Regions from separate parts of the Homo sapiens genome. Here regions 1, 3 and 4 are each linked to region 2. Evidence: fine-mapped expression QTL. A gene starts in region 2. Each other region holds a variant in brackets. All regions are shown on one strand. Distances are between the middles of the regions.

Region 1 (5,556 bases), 120 kb before region 2:
ATTTTGTATTTTTAGTAGAGCTGGGGTTTCTCCATGTTAGGCTGGTCTCAAACTCCCGACCTCAGGTGATCCACCGGCCTCGGCCTCCCAAAGTGCTGGGATTACGGGCGTGAGCCACCACACCCGGTCTTTATGATCTGTTTTTAAAGGCATGTGATTTTTGTTTTTTTGTTTGTTTGTTTTTCTTCTTTTTTGAGACAGGATCTCAGTCTGTTGCCCAGGCTGGAGTGGCGTGGTGCGATCTCAGCTCACTGCAGCCTTGACAACTCCTGGGCTCAAGGGCTCCTCCCATCTCTCAGCCTCCCCAGTAGCTGGGACTACAGGTGCATGCCACCATCCTCTGCTAATTTTTGTATTTTTTGTAGAGATGGGGTTTCATCATGTTGCCCAGGCTGGTCTCGAATTCCTGGGCTCAAGCAACCCACCTGCCTTGGCCTCCTAGTTTTGGGATTACAGGTGTGAGTCACCAGGCTGGCCAAGGCCTGTGATTTTTGATACATGCAAAAGAATACAAACAATATAATTACAGAATAATAAAATGAGCATCCATGCTTCTAGCACCCAACTTAACTAAAACGTTACTACTATTGTTGATGATGATTATTGCTTTTGATGTAGCTTGAATCAGCTAATGAGGAATAGATACCTTTCTTACTGGGCTGAACATTTTATAGGGATTATCTCATTATTGTTCCCAACTAGAGTTGAAAAAACTAAAACCTTAGTGAAATCCAAATTTTGACTTAGTAAATATCAAAATTGTGGTTCAAACCACTTCTATCTCCAAATCCATATTCTTTCACACTTGATATAGGTTTTCATTTGTTCTTTCATATATTCACTTACTCATTGAATACCTGATATCTTTCATGCAAATTTTAAAAATACCACCTTTAGGCCGGGGGCGGTGGCTCACGCCTGTAATCCCAGTACTTTGGGAGGCCGAAGCAAGTGGATCACCTGAGGTCAGGAGTTCGAGACCAGCCTGGCCAACATAGTGAAACCCCGTCTCTACTGAAAATACAAAAAAATTAGCCAGGTGAAGTGGCGCGTTCCTACAGTCCCAGCTACTTGGGAGGCTGAGGTAGGAGAATCGCTTGAACCCAGGAGGTGGAGGTTGCAGTGAGCTGTGATCGTGCCACTGCACTCCAGCTTGGGCAACAGAGTGAGACTCTGTCTCAAAAAAAAAAAACAAAAAACAAAACAAAACAAAAAAACAGAAAAAATAACAGCTTTATTGAGATATACTTAACGTACCATACAACTCCCCCATTTAATGTGTATAATTCAGTGTTTTGTTGTGAAACCATCACCACAATCAATTTTAGAACATTTTTATCAACACAGAAAGAAATGCAGTACCTTTTAGCTATCACTTCTCAATCTTCCCATCCCATCCGTAAGATCTAGGCAACTGTATTGCCCAGGCAGGAGTGCAGTGGTGCGATCAAGGCTCACAGCAACCTTGAACTGCCGGCTCAGGCAATCCTCCCACCTCAGCTTCATGAGTAGCTAGGACTGCAGGTGTGTGCCACCACCCTCAGCTAATTTTTAAGTTTTTCATAGAGACAGGGTCTTACTTGGCCAGGCTGGCCTTGAGCTCCTGGCCTCAAGCAATCCTTCTGCCTCCTCCTCCCAAAGTACTAGAGTTACAGATACGAGCCACTGCACTTGGCCTCTAGGCAACTATTAATATACTTTCTGTTTTTACAAATTCACCAATTCTGAATATTTTATATAAATGGAGGCTGGGCGTGGTGGCTCATGCTTATAATTCCAGCACTTTGGGAGGCTGAGGTGTGTGGATCACTTGAGGTCAGGAGTTTGAGACCAGCCTGGCCAACATGGTGTGAAACCCCATCTTTATAAAAAATGCAAAAATTAGCCAGGCGTGGTGGCAGGTGCTTTTAATCCTGGCTACTTGGGAGGCTGAGGCAGGAGAATCACTTGAGCCTGGGAGGCGGAGGTTGCAATGAGCAGAGATTGTGCCCACTGCACTCCAGCCTGGGCAACAGAGAGAGACTCTGTCTCAAAATAAATAAATAAATAAATAAGGAATCATGATATGTGGCCTTTTGTAAGCATGACATTGTGCCTAACTTTTTTCACTTAGCGTGTTTTCAAGGTTCATCTGTGTTGTAGCATGTATCAGTACTTAATTCATTTTTATTGCTGAATATATGGATATACTACAGTTTGTTCATTCATTAGTTGATAAACATTTGAGTTGTTTCTACCTTTTGACTTATGAATAATGCTGCTATGAATATTGGTATATAAGGTTTTGCATGGACATGTTTTCATTTCTCTTGGGTATATACGTATGAGTGGAATTGGTGTGTCATATGACAACTGTAATTAGCATTTTCAGGACTGCCAGACTGTTTTTCAAAGTGGCTACATCCTTTTGCATCCCTACTAGTAGTGTGAAGCTTCTGATTTCTCTACATCTTTGCTAGTATGTGTGTGCGCGCGTGTGTGTGTGTGTGTGTGTGTATTTTTTTAAATAATGGTAGCGTCTCACTATGTTGCCCAAGCTGAGAGTGCAGTGACTGTTCACAGGTGTGAACATCACATGCTACAGCCTCGAACTCCTGGCCTCAAGTGATCTTCCTGCCCCATCCTCCTGAGTAGCTGGGACTACAGGCATGTGCCATCATGCACAGCTACTTTCCACATCTTTGATAACACTTCTTATTGTCTTTTTACTATAGCCATCTTACTGAGTGAAAAGTGATACCTTATTGTGGCCTAATGACTGACAATGTTGAGCATCTTTTTGTGTGCATATTGACCACTTGTATATCTTCTTTGAAAAAATGTCTATTCAGAATTTTTGCCTATTTTTAAATTGGATTGTTTTTTGGTTACAGAGTTCTTTGTATATTCTAGATATGAGTCCCTTTTCAGATATTTTTTATTTTCTTGATGATGTCTTTTGAAGAATTGGGCTTTAATGAAGTT[C/T]GTTTAATCTATTTTTTCTTTTGTTGTTTGTGCTTTTGGTGTTATATCTAAGAAGTCATTAATCCAAGATCATGAAAGATGTATGCCTTTTTTTTCTGGTATATAGAAATTGACTTTATATGTATGCCTCCTTTTTTCTTTTCAGAGTTTTATAGTTTTAGCTTTTACATCTAGGTCTTTTCCGATTTTTAAGCCTAAGTTTTTTAGGTTTTTTTTTTTTGCCTTGAACAGAGAGAGATATTACTAAATGTCAGTTTTGTTTTAGTTTTGATTGCTAATGTTTTGGTGTATTTCCTTCTAATGTTTTCATATACATGTGTACATGCTCTTATGCATAGACATATGTGTGCACATGTGTACACACACACACACACACACTTTTTAAAACCAGATGGAAGTTTTGTTGACTCTGACTTCCTGATTGGAAATGCAAGCAACTCTCACTTACTACAGGAAAGAGGGAGTCACAGTGGAATGTCTTATTTTAGAAGTAGTATATAACCTTTGGGAATAGTAGTATAAACAGATTGTGCATTTTCAGATTTTTATTTTTATTTTTATTTTTTCGAGACAGAGTCTCGCACTGTCGCCCAGGCTGGAGTGCAGTAGCGTGATCTTGGCTCACTGCAAGCTCCGCTTCCCGGGTTCACGCCATTCTCCTGCCTCAGCCTCCCGAGTAGTTGGGACTACAGGCACCCGCCACCAGGCCTGGCTAATTTTTTGTATTTTTAGTAGAGACGGGGTTTCACCGTGTTAGCCAGGATGGTCTCGATCTTCTGACCTCGTGATCCACCCACTTCAGCCTCCCAAAGTGCTGGGATTACAGGTGTGAGCCACAGTGCCTGGCCCATTTTCAGATTTTTAAATCTCATTGTGAACATTAACCAAACTTGTGTTTTGTATCTATATCAAAATCTTCTCAAACAAACTTACTCATTCAGAATTTATGATAACTTGGATGTGCTATCCCAACATGTTTTTTGTTTATTTGTTTGTAGTATCTATAAATTGAACTCTAGGTTAAATTGCCTGACCTTGGCTAGGTGTGGTGGCTCATGACTGTAACCTCCACACTTTGGAAGGCTGAGGTGGGAAGATGGCTTGAGCCTAGGAGTTCAAGGCCAGCTTGTGCAACATAGTGGGACCCCCCATCTCTACAAATAATAATAATTTTTTAAAATTGCTTGACCCTTTTTTAGGTGGAGATGGGGTAAGATTGTATGTGTGTGTATACAGTTGCTCAGTAAATATCTCTTATGAATGTTGAGTGTTGTATGAGTATTAAATATGTAACAGTAGGTTTTAAATAATTTTTCCTGTTATTCTCATAGGTAAACCATTCTTATCAGACCATATGTTTATTTTTCTATTAGAAAATTTCTGTCTTTCTGTACACACACACACACACACACACACACACACACACACACACACAGATCCAGATATTCCTCGACTTCCAATGAGGTTACATTGTAATAAACCTATCATGAGTTGGAAATTTTTAGGTCAACAGTGCACTTAATACACCTAACCTTCTGAATGTCATAGCTTAGCCTATCCTACCTAAAACATGCTCAGAACACTTATGTTAGCCTATAATTGGGCAAAATCATAAAACACAAAGCCTGTTTTATAATACAGTATTGGATATCTCATGTAATTTATTGAATACTGTACTGAAAGTGAAAAACAGGCTGTATGAGTACTTGAAGTATTGTTTCTACTGAATGCATATTGCTTTTGCACCATTGTAAAGTCAAAAAACCATAAGTTGTATCATTGTTAAGTTGGGGACCACCTGTATATATGTGTTTATATATAATATTTATATGTACAAATGTATGTTTATTCGAAGACACAAATATAATTGAATGTTTGATTATGATATCTATTGTGGGCAAAAATAGTACCTTAATGTCAACCTAGAATTTTCAAAGTACATTATTATGCATTATTGTCACCCTCTATAAAATAGGTAGATGAGAAACAGAAGTCCAAAAAGGCTAACTCTCTTACCCCAATTTACACAGCTAATATATGCTGGAGGTTTCATGTGAACCCAAGTATTCTGATTTTTTTAGACCAAGTCCTTTTATTCTATGATGTCCTTTTGGGGGAATCAAATCATTGATTGTGTCAAAATAAATCTAGATGACACTATTCAACTTTATAGTGACTTTCTTGCCTCTTTCCTTCCTTCCTTTAATAAGTGTATGAATATGACATATTTACATATTTGGTTTTTTAGGTATAATTAACATTTTTAAAAGGAACAGATTTTAGATATTCAGCTCAATGAGTTTTGACAGTTGTATACACCCATGTAATCACCACCTAAGATAATGAACATTTCACCCCAGAAAAGTCGTTCATGCGTCTTTCCATTCAGTCCCTTCTCCCTTACCCCATGCAACCACACTTCTGATTTCTGTCTGAAGTTTTGTTGTTCTTGGATTTCATGTAAATGGAGTGCACGAGATGCATTCTTTCATGGCTGGCTTCTTTTGTTTAACATGTTTTCAGAGAGTCATCCTTGTGTGGGTATCAGGTTTGTGTTTGTTTTAAATTTTGCTGAGTAGTATTTCATCGTAC
Region 2 (5,556 bases):
TTTCCTCTCTGATTTGGGCCAGTCGCTGCTTCTTACGTTCCAACTCAGCCTTTAATTCACTTTTGTCTGACATGTTTGTGACCTTAGAAACATATAATCATTATGTTAGTAAAAGCAGCACAGTTGAAAAAACTAGTGTTCCAAGAAGAGAACTGTCCCGAAAGGCCATATAGTTCAATGCTATCTCAAAAAAGCACAAAAACCTTACTTTTAAAATAATGGGGCTGGGCAGTAGCTTACTTTGGGAGGCTAAAGTGGGAGAACTGCTTCAGGCCATGAGTTTGAGACCAGCCTGGGCAACAAAGCAAGACCCCATCTCTACAAAAAAAAAAAAAAAAAAAAAAAAGGCAAGAAAAATAAAAAATTAGGCGGCATGGTGGCATGTGCCTGTAGTCCCAACTACTTGGAAGGATTGCTGGAGCCCAGGAAGTCAAGGCTGCAGTGAGCCGTGATCATGCCACTGCACTCCAGCTTGGGCAACAGAGCGTCTCTAAAAAATAAACTTTTAAAAGATAAAATAAAGGAAGCATATATATTATTACTAAGACTTAAAAAATGTATAAACAAATATATATAATAAATATTACCTAGAGCTGAGCATAGTAGCTAGCCCATAGTAAGCACTTTAATGTTCGCATACACAAACTGAACACAATGTCTCAAAGTTTTTGATGACAATATATTAGGTACCCAAGATAAAGGTCAAAACTGGCTCTTAAAACAGAGGACATGGTTTGGCATTTAGAAGCTCTTAAGCTATATGACACAGATCAAAACTATTACCAATTCTATTGCATTCATAGAAACTTGATAAAAAACAATAGGTCAAACTGAACTTTCCTGTAAGTTCTAAAAGTGCTGTAGTAATACTAAAGCAAAACGCAGGAGTTACCATCATTAGCTATCAAATCATATGACTGTATTTCTCCACAATAACACCTTACGTATACCTCTGATGGCACTTTTAGTACAATTATTTGTGGACATACCTGAAATGTTCCCTATTAGATTGTAATGTACTTGAAATCAGGGACTGTTTTTTAGTTATTTTTGTTGCCTTCACAACATCCAGCAGAATGACCTTAACATTACAATTGACACTGGCTAATGAATAATGGATACGGTAGACACAATTACAATCTGAGCTTCAAAAACCAATTGCATAAACACTACTTCAGCTTGAGTTTTAGGAAGAAATAATGAATTAGGATTTTTTTTTTTTAAGTAGCCTAGCAGCTGAGCATAAGGCAGGAGCCAGGAACTCCTTACCTTCTCCACATGATTGACTTATTGCCTAATGATCAATCTCTTTCAATGTCTCTGTACAAGTGAAGTATTAAATGCTTTAGATCAAGAAAACTAGGAGAATAACCTCTGGAAAACTGTATTTCCAGAGGTTAGGGGAAATCTCTTAAAAAGCACAATTGTTAAATCTGAACAAAGGTAAGTCAGTCAAGAGGAGAAATTCACCTACTAAGAAGTGGATAAAGGAAATTTCAGCTACTAAACTCCATTAAGACTGGCAAGCGAATTGATAATTTTCAAGCATACGAAAAGGATGAAAAGTTGACATAGCAGACCTGAAATATATACACAATATCTTCCAAGATTTGTTTGAACAAACTAAAAGCAAGAGACCGTGTTTCTTATTCCACTCTTTCTACACCTCTAAACAGCTCCATACAAACGGCTGGTGAAGAGAACTTCCATACGTAACTGTATGCTACGCTAGGCACATTATATTTTGTTCAACGTCAACTGTAAAACAGATATACCAACACTAATTGATATTAAAATAAGCGCATTTTTAAAGCCCAACAACAAAGTCTTGACCAGCTGAACTACAGCTGACCAATCCTCTCATCCTCACAGAAGCCAGAGCCTTCCTCCATGACCGACATGTTCACGTTCTTAAAACTCAAGAGAAGAGAGTCTCTAGAGTTTTGTGCTAGAACCTCCGTGTTCGGGGGCTTTCCATCACACATAAGGTGAGGGGAGACACTATCAAGGCAAGTAGAGATGGCCTTAATTTGTAAAATGGGGCAAGGCGAAAACGAATCACTTTCTCCCCTGGGGTCACGGCCAAGAGGGCGCGGTCCACGGCAGGGCGTCCGGAAGAAGCCAGTGGGCGCCGGACAAGCCTCAAGGCTCCCCAGGCCGCCTCTGGAGGGTCGAGAAGGGAAAGGAGTGGACTCCTCTCGCCGGGCCGCAATGAGTCACCGCACCCAGGTCTCCCCGCCTTTCCTCCCCAAAGCTGGGCCGGGCGGGGATGTCAGCAGGAACTGCCAAGCCGCCCTTCGAGTTGCGACGTGGAACACAGGCAGGGAGGCCTTGAGGGAAGAACAGTCAACCCACCTGTCAGGTGACTGGATGGGGAAGAGTCCTCCCGCCTGCAACTTCCCGGTAACGTCCCTCGCCTAAGCCCCCAACACCAACTGTAGCCACCACCAGCTCCGCGGCTTTCCAAAGCACACAAAGAGGGATGGGCGGCGGCTGCTACGGCGAGAGCTTAGGGACAAATAGCCTCACCAGAACGAGGTCGCTCCCAGAAATAAAAGGTGGGGCCCTGCTGCGAGGAATTGTAGCCCCTCCGTGACTTACCTGTCGTAAAGCAGAAGCCGGTAGATAAAACAAAGAACCCAGTCAACCCAGGGGCCTTAAGTATTTCCGCTTTGCCAAAAACTGGAAAACTACGCCTAATATTCTCAGGCCAGGAATCCAACTTCCGCCCTCGCCTTACAAACTGACACGATCGAGAAGAACTACAAACCCCGGCAACAAGGAAAACCTGCGTGCGACGAGCAGTGCGTTCTGGGAATTGTGGTCGCTGGGCGTCGCAAGGTGTGCTGGGACATGTAGTGTGTCCCCTCCTTTAGATTTCCCACTCCAAGGCCTTCTTCCGTCGAGAAGCTTCTGTATAAAGTATTCTCGTCTGTTGATCCGTGCCCACAGTGTAGTATGTGTTATAGTGTAAGATCTTTGACCCAATATTGGCGGAATTTTAAGGTCTATTTTCCAGTGGTGAACCTGTGAATCACGCTGCTGCACATTTGGTGAAGACGTGAAGTAGACTGTTTAGGATGTAAAACATTATATATATATATGTACATACATATGTAAGTTTTAGGGAAAGAATGTCTTATATAGGCTTCATGTGGCATCTTAGGCAAAATCTAAATAAAAATATGTCAACTGACATAGCAAATAATTCTTTAGTATTTTGTTGCAGTGTGGTAGCATTTTGGTTTTCTCTCAAACAATTTTAGGAAATAAAGCATTTTGTATTATTGGACTCTCAAACCAAGCTAGAATGTTTTCCACAGTTAGATTTTTAACATACAAAGAAAACAAAAGTTACTGGAACATGAATTTACCTGCAATGTATACATTGACACACCTTTTTAAAGTTTAAATAATTTAAAGCATTATTTGGCAGGAGTTAAAGCTAACACCAAGGTAATATCTTTTCTATGTTCTAGAAAACTGATTGTTCTAGAAGTTCTAGATATTGCCCAAGTCTAGAATGAACCTTTATGATTCAAATTCCAAGTCCTTGGGCTTGTGGTCTTTTTCTTATCTTTCTCTGCCTTATCTGTGGTCTTTTGTGTAGAAAAAAATATTCTAAAAATAAATTTGAGAAAGAAAATCCTTGGCTTTCCACAGCTTTTCCCAATAACCTAACATTCAAAGAGCTTTATAGCTATGTTATTTTTTTACTTCTTTCCTAATAGTTTTCATGTATTAATTTGAAAAAAAATTATTATTGATTGCCTACCATGTGCCAGCAATGGTGATGGGTGTTGTGGTAACAGCTAAAATGGACCAGGCGCAGTGGCTCACACCTGTAATCCCAGCACTTTGGGAGGCCGAGGCAGGCAGATCACCTGAGCTCAGGACTTAGAGACCAGCCTGGGCAACATGGTGAAACCCCGTCTCTACAAAAAATAGAAAAATTAGCAGGGTGTGTGGCATGCGCCTGTAGTCCTAGCTAGTCACGAGGCTGAGGCAGGAGGATGGCTTGCGCCCAGGAGGCGGAGGTTATAGTGAGCTGAGATTACACAATTGCATTCCAGCCTGGGAGACAGAGCAAGACCCTGCCTCAAAAAAAAAAAAAAGAAAAAGAAACAAAAAAAACAAAAAACATAAAAATGCACAAAAATGCACATCCTTCTTCTCAAGGGAGAAAGGACACTCGCTCAACTAAGAATGGATGGTTCCTGACTGATGGTTTAACTTATGATTTTTTTCTCATTACAATGGGCTTATTAGAGTAAAATGCATTTTCAACATATATTTTTGACTTAAAATGGGTTTATCAGGACATAACTCAAGGAGCATCTGTATAATGATGGAATTATATAAGGAAGTCATAGAAACACCTGGAAAAACTTTTCAGGAAACTTTTGGAAGGAGGTGATTCTAGAGCTAAGTCTTTGATTCTCAAAGGTTGAGTAGAAGAAGTTAGCCAAGCAGAGAAGATGCAGAAAGGTGCCTTGGGAAGAGAAAAGAATATGGACAAAGGACAGAGGTGTGAGAGCATAGAATGCTGGTGAATTTGGAAATAATTCACAATGGCCGTAGGCTAAGACAGGAACTGGGGAATGAAGCCATAAGCAGGGGCAAAGTCGCACATCCCAGTTTAGATTTAGTCCTACAGATGATGTGAATCCACTGGTAGATTTTAAGAGGGTGCAAGGTATGAGAAGGTTTGCATTTTAGATGACTGGCCTTTCAAAGTAGTCCGGAGAAAGACTAATGTGCTGGTTATTTTCTTTGCCCCCCAGATTCATTTCCTGCCCTTCTTTGCTAAGCTCTATGCCTCTGAGGGTTGACCTCAGTTTCTTTAAGGACTGCTTTGTGGTTGGACATAAAGAAGGCCAAGGCAAGGATATCAGAAGGTGGGTAGAAAGGGAAATTGGGGCATCTCTTCCTTGCTCCTTCCTTCTTTGAGTGTCAGATGTCCAGCAATAGCTTCATTCCTTCATGACTACAGTACCTGCCAGATGGCTCTTTCACCATGGCTCTAGTTTTCCCCGGGCTGTCTGGTGATTTTATGTTCTCCTTTTATCTCTTGAACACCTCCTCTGTAGCTAGTCTCTGAGTGCCTCATCATCTCGTTTGTTCCCTTAATACCCGCTCACCCCTCTGTAACTTGTCCTTTCATTAAAGTATTTTCATGTGAACTATCTTGTGAATTCTGTTTCTTGTTGAGACCCTTGTTGATACAGCTTGCCTAGAGGGATGAGAGGTGGAGAAAGAGGTAAGGTAGAGACTGGAAGCAGGGAATGCAACTGGAAGAATTTGGGTAGAGCCAGCAATTATAAATGCATGAACTGATGCATCATCAGTGAGAATTAAGAAAAGTAGATGGATTGGAGAAATGTTAACATTATGTGAGACTTCTACAGCAATAAAGCAGACTAGATACCTCTTCCCACTGAAAACCACTCAATATACTGGCTGGATAATGTAGCTTTTGAGTGGGTACAGTGGCTCATGCCTATAATCCCAGCACTTTGGGAGGCCAAGGTGGGAGGATCACTTGAGCCCAGGAGT
Region 3 (5,556 bases), 340 kb before region 2:
GATTTTTTTATTTTTATTTATTTATTTATTTATTTATTTAGAGATGGAGTCTTGCTCTGTCGCCCAGGCTGGAGTGCAGTGGTGTGATCTCAGCTCGCTGCAAGCTCCACCTCCCGGGTTCACGCCATTCTCCTGCCTCAGCCTCCCGAGTAGCTGGGACTACAGACGCCCGCCACCAGGCTCAGCTAATTTTTATTTTTAGTAGAGATGGGGTTTCACCGTGTTATCCAGGATGGTCTCCATCGCCTGACCTCGTGATCCACCTGCCTCGGCCTCCCAACGTGTTGGGATTACAGGCGTGAGCCACCACGCCCGGCCTCAAGTTCAATTTTTTTGGCAAGAATATTTAATGGACAGTGGTGTGCTCTGATAGCTGTGGCTCTTTTTGTGATGTTAGCAACCATTGATGACCAGTAGATAGATTCATTATTTCACGAGGGGTTTGCCAAATGGTGATATTCTCTCAGACCTTCTTAATTTGTTGGCAGAAATACTTCTAAAAAGAGAAACTTTCTTTCATCAAATATTTGGTCATCCTGAGGTTCAGTTCCATACAGGATATATCAAGTTAAGGGCTTGATTCTTTCCTTCTACTTAACCAGTTTTCAAGAGTGAGTTAAAAAATATAGGGCTTTCAACAACAAATTCAGTGTTCCTAATCAGAGATTACATAAAGTATCTATCTAGAAGATGATCTATTTCTATCTAAATGATTTCTACAGGGAAGGTTGAGTCAAGTGAAACATAATTTCACTTTGAAATAAGAATACTAATCAGAATCCAGTAAAACAGAAACATTTTACTGATTTTATCATAAAGTAAAACTATTAATCTCTCAGACTTAATAAATCACGTATCTTTTCTATTCTTTTCTTCTCACACTTTTATTTCGGGAGTGGGATGAGGCTGGGAGATTAGAGGTAACAAGATAAGACTGCAATTTAAAGGGGGAAAAACTCAACTCCAAATGGGTTTTTCTTTAAGAAGGAAACCCAAAACCAAAAGAAAACAGGTAAAATTAGCTATTGAAATTATGGCTATGTGAATCAACCCTTGCTCCCTACATCTGGCAGCATTTAGCTCCCCGAGGGCATGCTTGGTGCCCCAGGGCACCGTTACACATGTTTGACCAGCCGGGCAACAAGAAAGGACGCAGAAACTATGAATAGAGGCAGCAGGTAACCATCAGGCCGACCAAATGGCTGAGGCACTTTGACAAAACACACAATGAAGCAACTGGTTATTCCCATGGCTGAAAAGTCAACGACGTAGGGCTTTATTTTGGGATTCGAATTCCACAACACTCCTCTTTAAGTCACTGGGTTACTTCCTTGTTTAAATCAGGTCCTCAAATCCTCCCTTTTCTTTCAGACACTCAGTGAAAAGCATCAGAGATGAGCTGTATAAAGCTACTTTGTATTCTTGCCAAAAACCCATCTGAGAATTCAACTAGACTGTTTTCTGGACTCTACTCCAAGTCTGTGCAGGAAGTGAAGGTGCCAAATTATTCTGGAAACACTTTGGTATTGTGCTCAAAAAGAGAGAGAAAGCATATGTGAATGACTTCCTCCATCTTATTATATAATATCCATTTTACAACTGAGATAAGTCTAGTGCTATAGTTTTAAATATGGCTCCCCTCTAACTAAACATTTTATTATTATAAAGGACAGGCTTTGCCCACCTTTCCTACAACCTAAAGCCCTCTTTTGGAGCCCCTGGTAGGGGAGTGTCTCCCTTCTCTCCCACCAAGATCCCTACCCTCTGCTCTTCCTCTGGGGTCTTCACCAAGACTACTGAAAACATACCCAACTCATTCCTTCTAAAGCAATCTTGGCAAAACCCAGAGTGATAACTCCTATTAAACTAAGCCTTTATGAGGATACTCCATTAACCCAAAGAAAATTCTAATACGTAGTTGGACATTTTATGTTCCAAGAAGGCTGTAGGGGACATATTTTAGGGCCAGTGGACCTTTCCAATTATTTCAAATTATATCATTTGTTAATAATAACCTGTTTTATAAAAATATGACACTCTGGGGGAAAATACTATAAATGTCTTTAGTCTCCCAATAAAATATTTCTGAATTATGAATTTTTAAAAATGATGAGTACTTGAGAAAATTTTCCTAAATTATCATTTCCTAAATTATCATTATCATACCTAAAGTCTTTACTTCTGAAAAGTAATTTCTTAAAACTACACAGCAGGATGACATTTTTAATGTATGAGACATACATACATGTGAGTGAGCTTAACTGTAGAATTAAGACATTCTTTAACAACTGGTTCACATACAACTAAATATTTAGAGAAGCTAAATATATTTCCAATTTTAAGTACAGAAGAAAGTTAAATGAA[A/C]GACTTTCTTAAGAAACAGTATATTTCCTGCGAATTGATGTCGCTCCATGGTCTCCAATTTAAGACAAAAGCAGAAACGTAATTGCTGGCTGCATTCCTATTGCTCATGACTTTATTACAAAACCAGAAGCAAATCAAGGATTTGAATTTAGAAAGATGCTTTCCAGTGGTAAAGGCTGAAGATAGGGTTCATGGGGTAAGAATGCAGAGATTTTGTTTAGAATATCCCTCTATAACATGGTAGCAATGTTGTGTCACACACCCTTGGACCTCGACCCTTACTTCATGCCTACTTTAGTTCATTTCCACCTCTGCAATACATTTTTTTAAAAATGTAGGCTTACGCCAGGTGTGGTGGCTCACGCCTGTAATCCCAGTATTTTGGGAGGCCGAGGTGGGCAGATCACCTGAGATCGGGAGTTCGAGACCAGCCTGACCAACATAAAGAAACCCCGTCTCTAATAAAAATAAAAAAAAATTAGCCAGGCATGGTGGCACATGCCTGTAATCCCAGCTACTCAGGAGTCTGAGGCAGGAGAATTGCTTGAACCCAGGAGGTGGAGGTTGTGGTGAGCCGAGATCACACCATTGCACTCTAGCCTGGGCAACAAGAGTGAAACTCTGCCTCAAAAAAAATAAATAAATAAATAAATAAAATAAAATAAAATGTAGGCTTAAAGGCCGGGTGCAGCGGCTCATGTCTGTAATCCCAGCACCTTGGGAGGCCCAGGCGGGTGGATCACTTGAAGTCAGGAGTTTGAGACCAGCCTGGCCAACATAGTGAAACCCCATCTCTACTAAAAATACAAAAATTAGCTGGATGTGGTGGCGCATGCCTGTAAATCCCAGCTACTAGGGAAGCTGAGGCATTAGAATTGCTTGAACCTGGGAGATGGAGGTTGCAGTGAGCTGAGATGGTGCCACTGCACTCTAGCCTGGGCAACAGAGTGAGACTTTGTCTCAAAAAATAAATAAGTAAGTAAGTAGAAATAAAAATAAAATGTAGACTTAAAAATGAGCCTACATTAGGGATCATGAGTTTGAGGCGGTTATTTTTGTGGGCTATAGTTTTTTCATTCACCTGCTTTTCTGGAAAATATTTGCTCACCACAGATGCTCATGTTATGGTAACTCTAAGACCAGAAAACAATCCCTATCTCTGTTTCGCTGTAATATTGACAGTTTCTCTTAGTCAGGCTTTTGTCTATATACTATTTTGTAAATGGGCAAGAACTAAAATGTGCTGGGGATTTTAGGTATATCTTTTCACAAAAGTATATTTTAAAAGCAAATAAATAAGTACTTCTTCTTTGAGACAAGGTTTGGCTCTATCCCTTATGCTGGAGTGCAGTGGTGTGATCTCAGCTTACTGCAAACTCAGCCTCCTGGGTTCAAGCAATTCTCCCACCTCAGCCTTCAAAGTAGCTGGGACCACAGGCGTGCACTACCACAGGCACATGCCACTAGGCCTGGCTAATTTTTCTATTTTTAGTAGAGACAGGTTTTCACCTAGTTGCTCAGGCTGGTCTCAAACTCCAGAGATAAGCAATCCTCCTGCCTCAGCCTCCCAAAGCGCTGGGATTACAGGCGTAAACCACCATGCCCAGCTAATAAGTACATTTATAACTACTGGCAATAGTAAGCAGTACTTTGAAAGGTGACACATTCTCTCTAGAGTCTCAGTATCTTTGGGTTTGTTATGGTTTGACCATGCATGTCTACTGAATTCTTATTCTTCTATTTTCCTACTTTGTTCAGTCTCTGCTATATTTTAGAAGACTAAAAATGGTGTGTAAAGATGCTTTAACAATAAATACATAATTAAAGTAACATACTAATCATGGCAAGTTTATGAGAAAATCAAGAATCAAGTTAGAATACATTTTTAATGTCCTTAAATTATTACAGGGAATTCATAGGTATAACAGACATTAAAAACAAGCACTCTCCTTCCTTTTTTATTCCTAAGAAACTAATTTTCCATCACAGCTTCACATTTTTGCATGTCTAAATTTGTTATATAGTTCGTGGCAAACCTTATTTTTCTTTATAAGTCTTCCTTTCAGAGATGACCAAGATATTATTGGTAAATGAAAAACAAGTTGCATATTATATACACAGCATGTTACCACTAAGAAAACACACACACACACACACACACACACACACACACACACACACACACACACACAGACACACATACAGAAGTCTGCTCATGTGTAGGAAAAAAAGTCTAGGTGAGAATAATTACTAAGTTTTCCTGCTTCAAACTCTTCAATGTTTATCCACTGCTTTTTGAACATAGTTTCAACTTCCCATTATGGCCTTGAGGGCCTGCAATGGTCTGACCCCACCTCCCTCTGGCCTCCTGGCACTCCACCCTCCTGTCACTCACTGCCGCCAGCCACAGGGGCCCCCTTTCTGCTCCTCAGAGACACTAAGCCCTTTCTGGGCTCTGCATTTGCTCTTTCACCAAGTTCTCACATCACTGGCCCATTCATGGCCTTTGAGCCTCAGCTCAAATGTCACTTCATCAGCAGGCCTTCTGGGACCTCTCTCTCTAAAGTGGTCCCCCCTAGTTACTGGCACCCTCTTAGCTTTGTTTATTTCCCTAAACGCACGTTTCTCATTTTGAAGTTATCATGTTTGTTTGTCTAATTGCGTCTATTGTTTCCCCATCAGAATGGCAACTCCGTGAGGTCTGAAACCCCAGCCCCCACTAGTACCAGGGGACCTAGCACATTTAATCCCTCACCAAATCAAGAGACTTGCAGCTGAGGGATCTGGCCCTCCCTTTCTTTAGGTCTCTTCAGTCTGGTGAAATCCTTGTCACTTTGCACCTGAATTTTCTTCTTTCAGAGTTTAACTTTTATAGTTTAGACTTTACTTTCTTACCAAAAGAACTTGTCACATGAGCAGACACAACAGAAGGTAGAGAGTAAATTCCACTGCTACCTGGAAAGTGAGGGATAAGAAAACTTCATGCAAACTTTAGCACAAACGACAACTGAAGACAAATTAAAAATGAAGAAAAAGATTTTCAGAAATTATAATGTTAAGTCAGAAGGGAATATGACATACACACGTGTACACGTACAAAATCATAAATACACATACACACTCATATCCTTACACACACAAATACAGTCATGCATCACTTAACAACAGGGATACATTCTGAGAAATGCATCA
Region 4 (5,556 bases), 87 kb before region 2:
ATTTTTTTTTTTTTTTTTTTTTTTTGAGACGGAGTCTCGCTCTGTCGCCCAGGCTCAATCTCTGCTCACTACAAGCTCCGCCTCCTGGGTTCATGCCATTCTCCTGCCTCAGCCTCCCGAGTAGCTAGGACTACAGGCACCTGCCACCACGCCCGGCTAATTTTTTGTATTTTTAGTAGAGATGAGGTTTCACCATGTTAGCCAGGATGGTCTTGATCTCCTGACCTCGTGATCCTCCCGCCTCGGCCTCCCAAAGTGCTGGGATTACAGGCGTGAGCTACTGTGCCCAGCCAGTTTTATTTAAATTTTAAAAGTATTTTATTTTTAATGTCTGTAGCATTTTAAATTATATGTAATAAATGAAATAAATGAAATACATTTAATTAAATAATAAATAAATAAATAGAGACAAAGAGAAAGGGTCACTCTGCCAGCCATGCTGAAGTGCAGAGGCACCATTATAGCTCACTGCAGCCTTGACCACCTGGGCTCAAGTGATCCTCCCACCTTGGGCTCCCAAGTGTCTGGAGCTACAGGTGCCTGCCACCAAGCCTGGCTAATATTTTACTTTTTATTTTTTGTAGAGACAGGGTCTCACTATGTTGCCCAAGTTGGTCTTGAACTCAGGCTCAAGTGATCCTTGCCCCTCAGCTTCCTAATGTGCTAGGTTTATGGGCATGAGTCACCACATCTGGCCCTATAGCATTTAATATTTCTTCTTATTCATTTCTGATATTGTTTGTGACTTCTTTCTGTATTTTAATGATTCAGTCCAGAGATTGGTCAATTTTATTAGTTTTTACAGAGAACTGACTTCTGGCTGTGTTGATCCTTTTTTTTTTTTTTTTTTTTTTTGACAGAGTCTCGCTCTGACACCCAGGTTGGAGTGCAGTGGCATGACTTTGGCTCATTGCAACCTCTGCCTCTTGGGTTCAAGTGATTCTCCTGCCTTGGCCTCCCAAGTGGCTGAGATTACAGGTGCATGCCACCATGCTTGGCTAATTTTTATATTTTTAGTAGAGACAGGGTTTCACCATGTTGGCCAGGCTGGTCTCAAACTCCTGGCCTCAAGTGATCCGCCTGCCTCAGCCTCCCAAATTGCTGGGATTACAGGTGTGAGCCATCAGGCCCAGCTATTTCGTTAATTTTTGCTCTTATCTGTTTTTCTTCTATTTTCTTAGGCTATTTTGCCATTCTTTCTTTTCTTTTTTTTTTTGAAACAGAGTCTCATCTGTCATCCAGGCTGGAGTGCAGTGATGCAATCTCGGCTCACTGCAACCTCCGCCTCCTGGGATCAAGTGATTCTCCTGTCTCAGCCTTCTGAGCAGCTGGGATTACAGGCACCCCCACTATGCCTTGCTAATTTTTGTTTTTTGGTAGAGACGGGATTTCACCATGTTGGCCAGGCTGGTCTTGAACTCCTGACTCCAAGTAACCCACCCACCTCAGCCTCCCAAAGTGCTAGGATTACAGGTGTGAGCCACCATGCCCTGCCTACCATTCTCTTTCTAACTTCTTGAGATGTCTCTCTCTCTCTCTCCCTCACCCTCACTCACTCTCTCACTCTCTCTCAGATAGGGTTTTCACTCTGTTGCCCAGGCTGGAGTGCAGTGACATAATCACAGCTCACTGCAGCCTTGACTTCCCAGGCTTAAGTAATCCCCCACCTCAGCCTCCCAAGTAGCTGGGACCACAGGTGTATGACACCAAAGCCAGCTAATTTGTAATTTTTTTTTTTTTTTTTTTTGGTAGAGATAGGATTTCCCTATGTTACCCAGGCTGGTTTCAAACTCCTGGGCTGAAGGAATCCTTCCATCTCAGCCTCTTAAAGTGTTGGGATTACAGGTGTGAGCCATTATGCCCAGCCCCTCATTATTATTATTTAAAGAAAGCTAGGACATTTTCACTATTTTTTTAAGAACTCTTTTCTAATCATCATATGCTAGAAACTGAGAAGGAACTCTTCATTGATTATTATTTCTTCTTGGACTCATGAGTTATTTAGAAGAATGTTTCTTAATTTCAAAATTTGGGAAAATATATATTAGTTTTTTTTGTTTTTGTTTTTGTTTTTATTGATCATTCTTGGGTGTTTCTCCCAGAGGGGGATTTGGCAGGGTCATAGGACAATAGTGGAGGGAAGGTCAGCAGATAAACAAGTGAACAAAGGTCTCTGGTTTTCCTAGGCAGAGGACCCTGCGGCCTTCCGCAGTGTTTGTGTCATTGGGTACTTGAGATTAGGGAGTGGTGATGACTCTTAACGAGTATGCTGCCTTCAAGCATCTGTTTAACAAAGCACATCTTGCACCACCCTTAATCCATTTAACCGAGTGGACACAGCACATGTTTCAGAGAGCACCGGGTTGGGGGTAAGGTCACAGATCAACAGCATCCCAAGGCAGAAGAATTTTTCTTAGTACAGAA[C/T]AAAATGGAGTCTCCTATGTCTACTTCTTTCTACACAGACACAGCAACAATCTGATTTCTCTATCTTTTCCCCACATTTCCCCCTTTTGTATTCGACAAAACTGCCATCGTCATCATGGCCCGTTCTCAATGAGCTGTTGGGTACACCTCCCAGACGGGGTGGCGGCTGGGCAGAGGGGCTCCTCACTTCCCAGAAAGGGCGGCCGGGCAGAGGCGCCCCCCACCTCCCGGACGGGGCGGCGGCCGGGCAGAGGCTGGCCCCCACCTCCCTCCCGGACGGGGCAGCTGGCCGGGCGGGGGCTGCCCCCCACCTCCCTCCTGGACGGGGCGGCTGCCGGGCGGAGGGGGTCCTCACTTCTCAGACGGGGCGGCTGCCGGGCAGAGGGGCTCCTCACTTCTCAGACGGGGCGGCTGGGCAGAGACGCTCCTCACCTCCCAGATGGGGTCGCGGCCGGGCAGAGGTGCTCCTCACATCCCAGACGGGGCGGTGGGGCAGAGGCGCTCCCCACATCTCAGACGATGGGCATCCGGGCAGAGACGCTCCTCACTTCCTAGACGGGATGGCGGCCGGGAAGAGGCGCTTCTCACTTCCCAGACTGGGCAGCTGGGCAGAGGGGCTTCTCACATCCCAGATGATGGGCGGCCAGGCAGAGACGCTCCTCACTTCCCAGACGGGGTGGCAGCCGGGCAGAGGCTGCAATCTCGGCACTTTGGGAGGCCAAGGCAGGCGGCTGGGAGGTGGAGGTTGTAGCTAGCCGAGATCACGTCATTGCAGTCCAGCCTGGGCAACATTGAGCACTGAGTGAACGAGACTCCGTCTGCAATCCCGGCACCTCGGGAGGCCGAGGCTGGCGGATCACTCGCGGTTAGGAGCTGGAGACCAGCCCGGCCAACACAGCGAAACCCCGTCTCCACCAAAAAAACACGAAAAGCAGTCAGGCATGGCGGCGCGCGCCTGCAATCGCAGGCACTCAGCAGGCTGAGGCAGGAGAATCAGGCAGGGAGGTTGCAGTGAGCCAAGATGGCAGCAGTACAGTCCAGCTTCGGCTCGGCATCAGAGGGAGACCGTGGAAAGAGAGGGAGAGGGAGACCGTGGGGAGACGGAGAGGGAGAGGGAGATATTAGTTTTTATTATTGATTCCTAACATAATTGCATTGTGGTCTAAGGACACACTATCTATGATTACAATCCTTTTGAAATCCTCTTGGCTCCATAGATCGTCATTTTAAAATAAATATTGCATGAACACTTACAAGAATATGTATTCTGCTATTGATGGGTACTCTGTGTGAGGGCATGTGTGTACTCACTACTTTCACACATGGCATTATTTGGTCAAGTACAGCAATTTATTTAAAATGTCTATATCCTACTTTTTGTTTGCTTGTTCTGTCAATTGGTAAAAAAACAAAAAGCATGTTAAACTTTCCTATTATAATTTTGTATTTTCTATTTCTCCTTGTAGTTCTGTCAATGTTTGCTTTTTACATTTTAAGGTTATGTCATTAGGTACATCAAGACAAATTAAGAGCTTCCAGATGAATTGATTCTTTTGTCATTGTCTCTTTTTTTAATCTCTAGTAATGCTTTTTGTCTGAAAATTTATTTTTTGATATTACTGTAACTATATTTTTCTTTTTTAATATTTACAAGGAAAATTTTCTCTGTCCTTTTATTTTCACATTTTCTCTAATTTGAGGTATGTCACTTATAAGCAGCATATATTTGCATTTTTAAAAAAGTGTAGTCTGACTTCACTCTTTCAGTGGAAGCATTTTAGTTCATTTAATGTAATTACAGATATACCTTATTTGTATTTAAGTATAACATTTCATTTTGTGATTCCTTTGACCCATCTCTACTTATTTTTAATATATTCTTGGGTGTTTTAGAGCAATTATTTTTATTTTTCTATTCTTTTCCCACTGTTTGGAGTTTATGTACTTTGTTTATTGTTTTAGTAAATCTATAATATGCATACTTAATTTTCTAAAATTGAAGTTGGATTGATTCACTCTGCTCTTTTTTATATAAGGATGTTAGTACACTTGAAGACTTGGTATTATCCTACAGTGCAAAAGCTGCTTAAATGCTCACCTTACTGCTCTAGGTTCTGGCTTTTCCTTAGATTGCTGACTTATATTCTCAGCTTTTCAGTGCTTTGAAAATTTTAAACAATCTAGCATTTTTAGTTTTTAGTGCTGATACAAATAACATAGCCTGCCATCTTCCTAGGAATGAAGTTCCCTATTTGTGTGCTTTCTGTGAACTGCCTACTTTTAAATTTTAAATAGGGTTTACAATTTTTTTCTTTATTGACTTATAGACATTCTTTGTTATCTGGATATCAACTCTGCAATATTTCTACCAACCCTTTTCTGCGCATATAATTTTTTTTAAAAAAAATTGAACACAGGATGAGGCGGCAAATCTTTTTTTAAAAAATTAATAAACTTTATCTTTTAGAGCAGTTTTAGGTTCATAGCAAAATTGAGTGGAAAACAGAGTTCTTATATACCACTTTCCTTTCCCCACACTTGGACACCCTTCCCCGAATCAATATCCCACACCACAGTGGTGTATGTTTGATGAACCTACATTGACTCATCATTGTCACCCAAAGTCCATAGTTTACATTAGGGTTCACTTTTGGCGGTGTACATTCTATAGGGTTTTTTCTTTTTCTTTTTCTTTTTTTTTCTGCTGTGATCACTTGGTTCTAATTGATAGGTTTTGACGAAGATATAAAGACGTGTGTTTATCATTGTAAAAAATAATTTAATTGCCCTAAAAATACTCTGCTCTGCCTATTCATCGCTCCCTTCCCCCAATTCCTGACATCCCTCCCTTCCCCCAATTCCTGACAACCACTAATCTTTTTACTATCCCCATAGTTTTGCCTTTTCCAGAGTGTCATATACTTTGAGTTACGCAGTATGTATCCTTTTCAGATTGGCTTCTTTCACTTGTTTTTTTGTTTTGTTTTGTTTTGGTAGAGATGAGATCTCACTATATTGCTTCGGCTGATCTTGAACTCCTAGGCTGAAGTGATCCTCCTGCCTCAGCAGGAATATCAATTTAAGTTTTTTGTATGCCTTTTTGTGGCTTCATAGCTCATTTCTTTTTCATGG

Direction of the effects. Alleles are on the strand shown, and positions count from the first base shown. SD is a standard deviation of normalised expression in the study named. Not every link is listed here.
With allele C in place of T in region 1, the expression in skeletal muscle of the gene that starts at base 2,760 in region 2 is higher (moderate effect, 0.51 SD a copy in GTEx).
As copies of C replace A in region 3, the expression in lung of the gene that starts at base 2,760 in region 2 goes down (small effect, 0.27 SD a copy in GTEx).

Evidence for each region. PIP is the estimated chance that this variant, and not a neighbour inherited with it, causes the effect.
Region 1: its variant is the best candidate, but not a certain one, in a credible set for the expression of DYNC1I2 in skeletal muscle (GTEx, PIP 0.53).
Region 3: its variant is the best candidate, but not a certain one, in a credible set for the expression of DYNC1I2 in lung (GTEx, PIP 0.51).
Region 4: its variant is the best candidate, but not a certain one, in a credible set for the expression of DYNC1I2 in whole blood (INTERVAL, PIP 0.75).

What each region holds. Positions count from the first base shown.
Region 1 is chr2:171,800,751-171,806,306 of GRCh38, reverse strand. All of the region lies in intron 13 of SLC25A12 (solute carrier family 25 member 12), which reads left to right. Among named protein-coding and RNA genes, the nearest start is that of SLC25A12, 91 kb to the left of the region's middle. The variant C/T (reference allele first, on the strand shown) is at 2,965.
Region 2 is chr2:171,684,673-171,690,228 of GRCh38, reverse strand. DYNC1I2 (dynein cytoplasmic 1 intermediate chain 2) reads right to left here and starts at 2,760. Exons shown (of 18, transcript NM_001378.3): 1 at 2,602-2,760; 2 at 1-82. The coding sequence starts at 73. RefSeq lists an enhancer at 2,590-2,759.
Region 3 is chr2:172,027,543-172,033,098 of GRCh38, reverse strand. The region is part of intron 1 of METAP1D (methionyl aminopeptidase type 1D, mitochondrial); the gene reads right to left. Among named protein-coding and RNA genes, the nearest start is that of METAP1D, 30 kb to the right of the region's middle. The variant A/C (reference allele first, on the strand shown) is at 2,365.
Region 4 is chr2:171,772,036-171,777,591 of GRCh38, reverse strand. No RefSeq gene overlaps it. Among named protein-coding and RNA genes, the nearest start is that of DYNC1I2, 87 kb to the right of the region's middle. RefSeq lists an enhancer at 1,704-2,323. The variant C/T (reference allele first, on the strand shown) is at 2,425.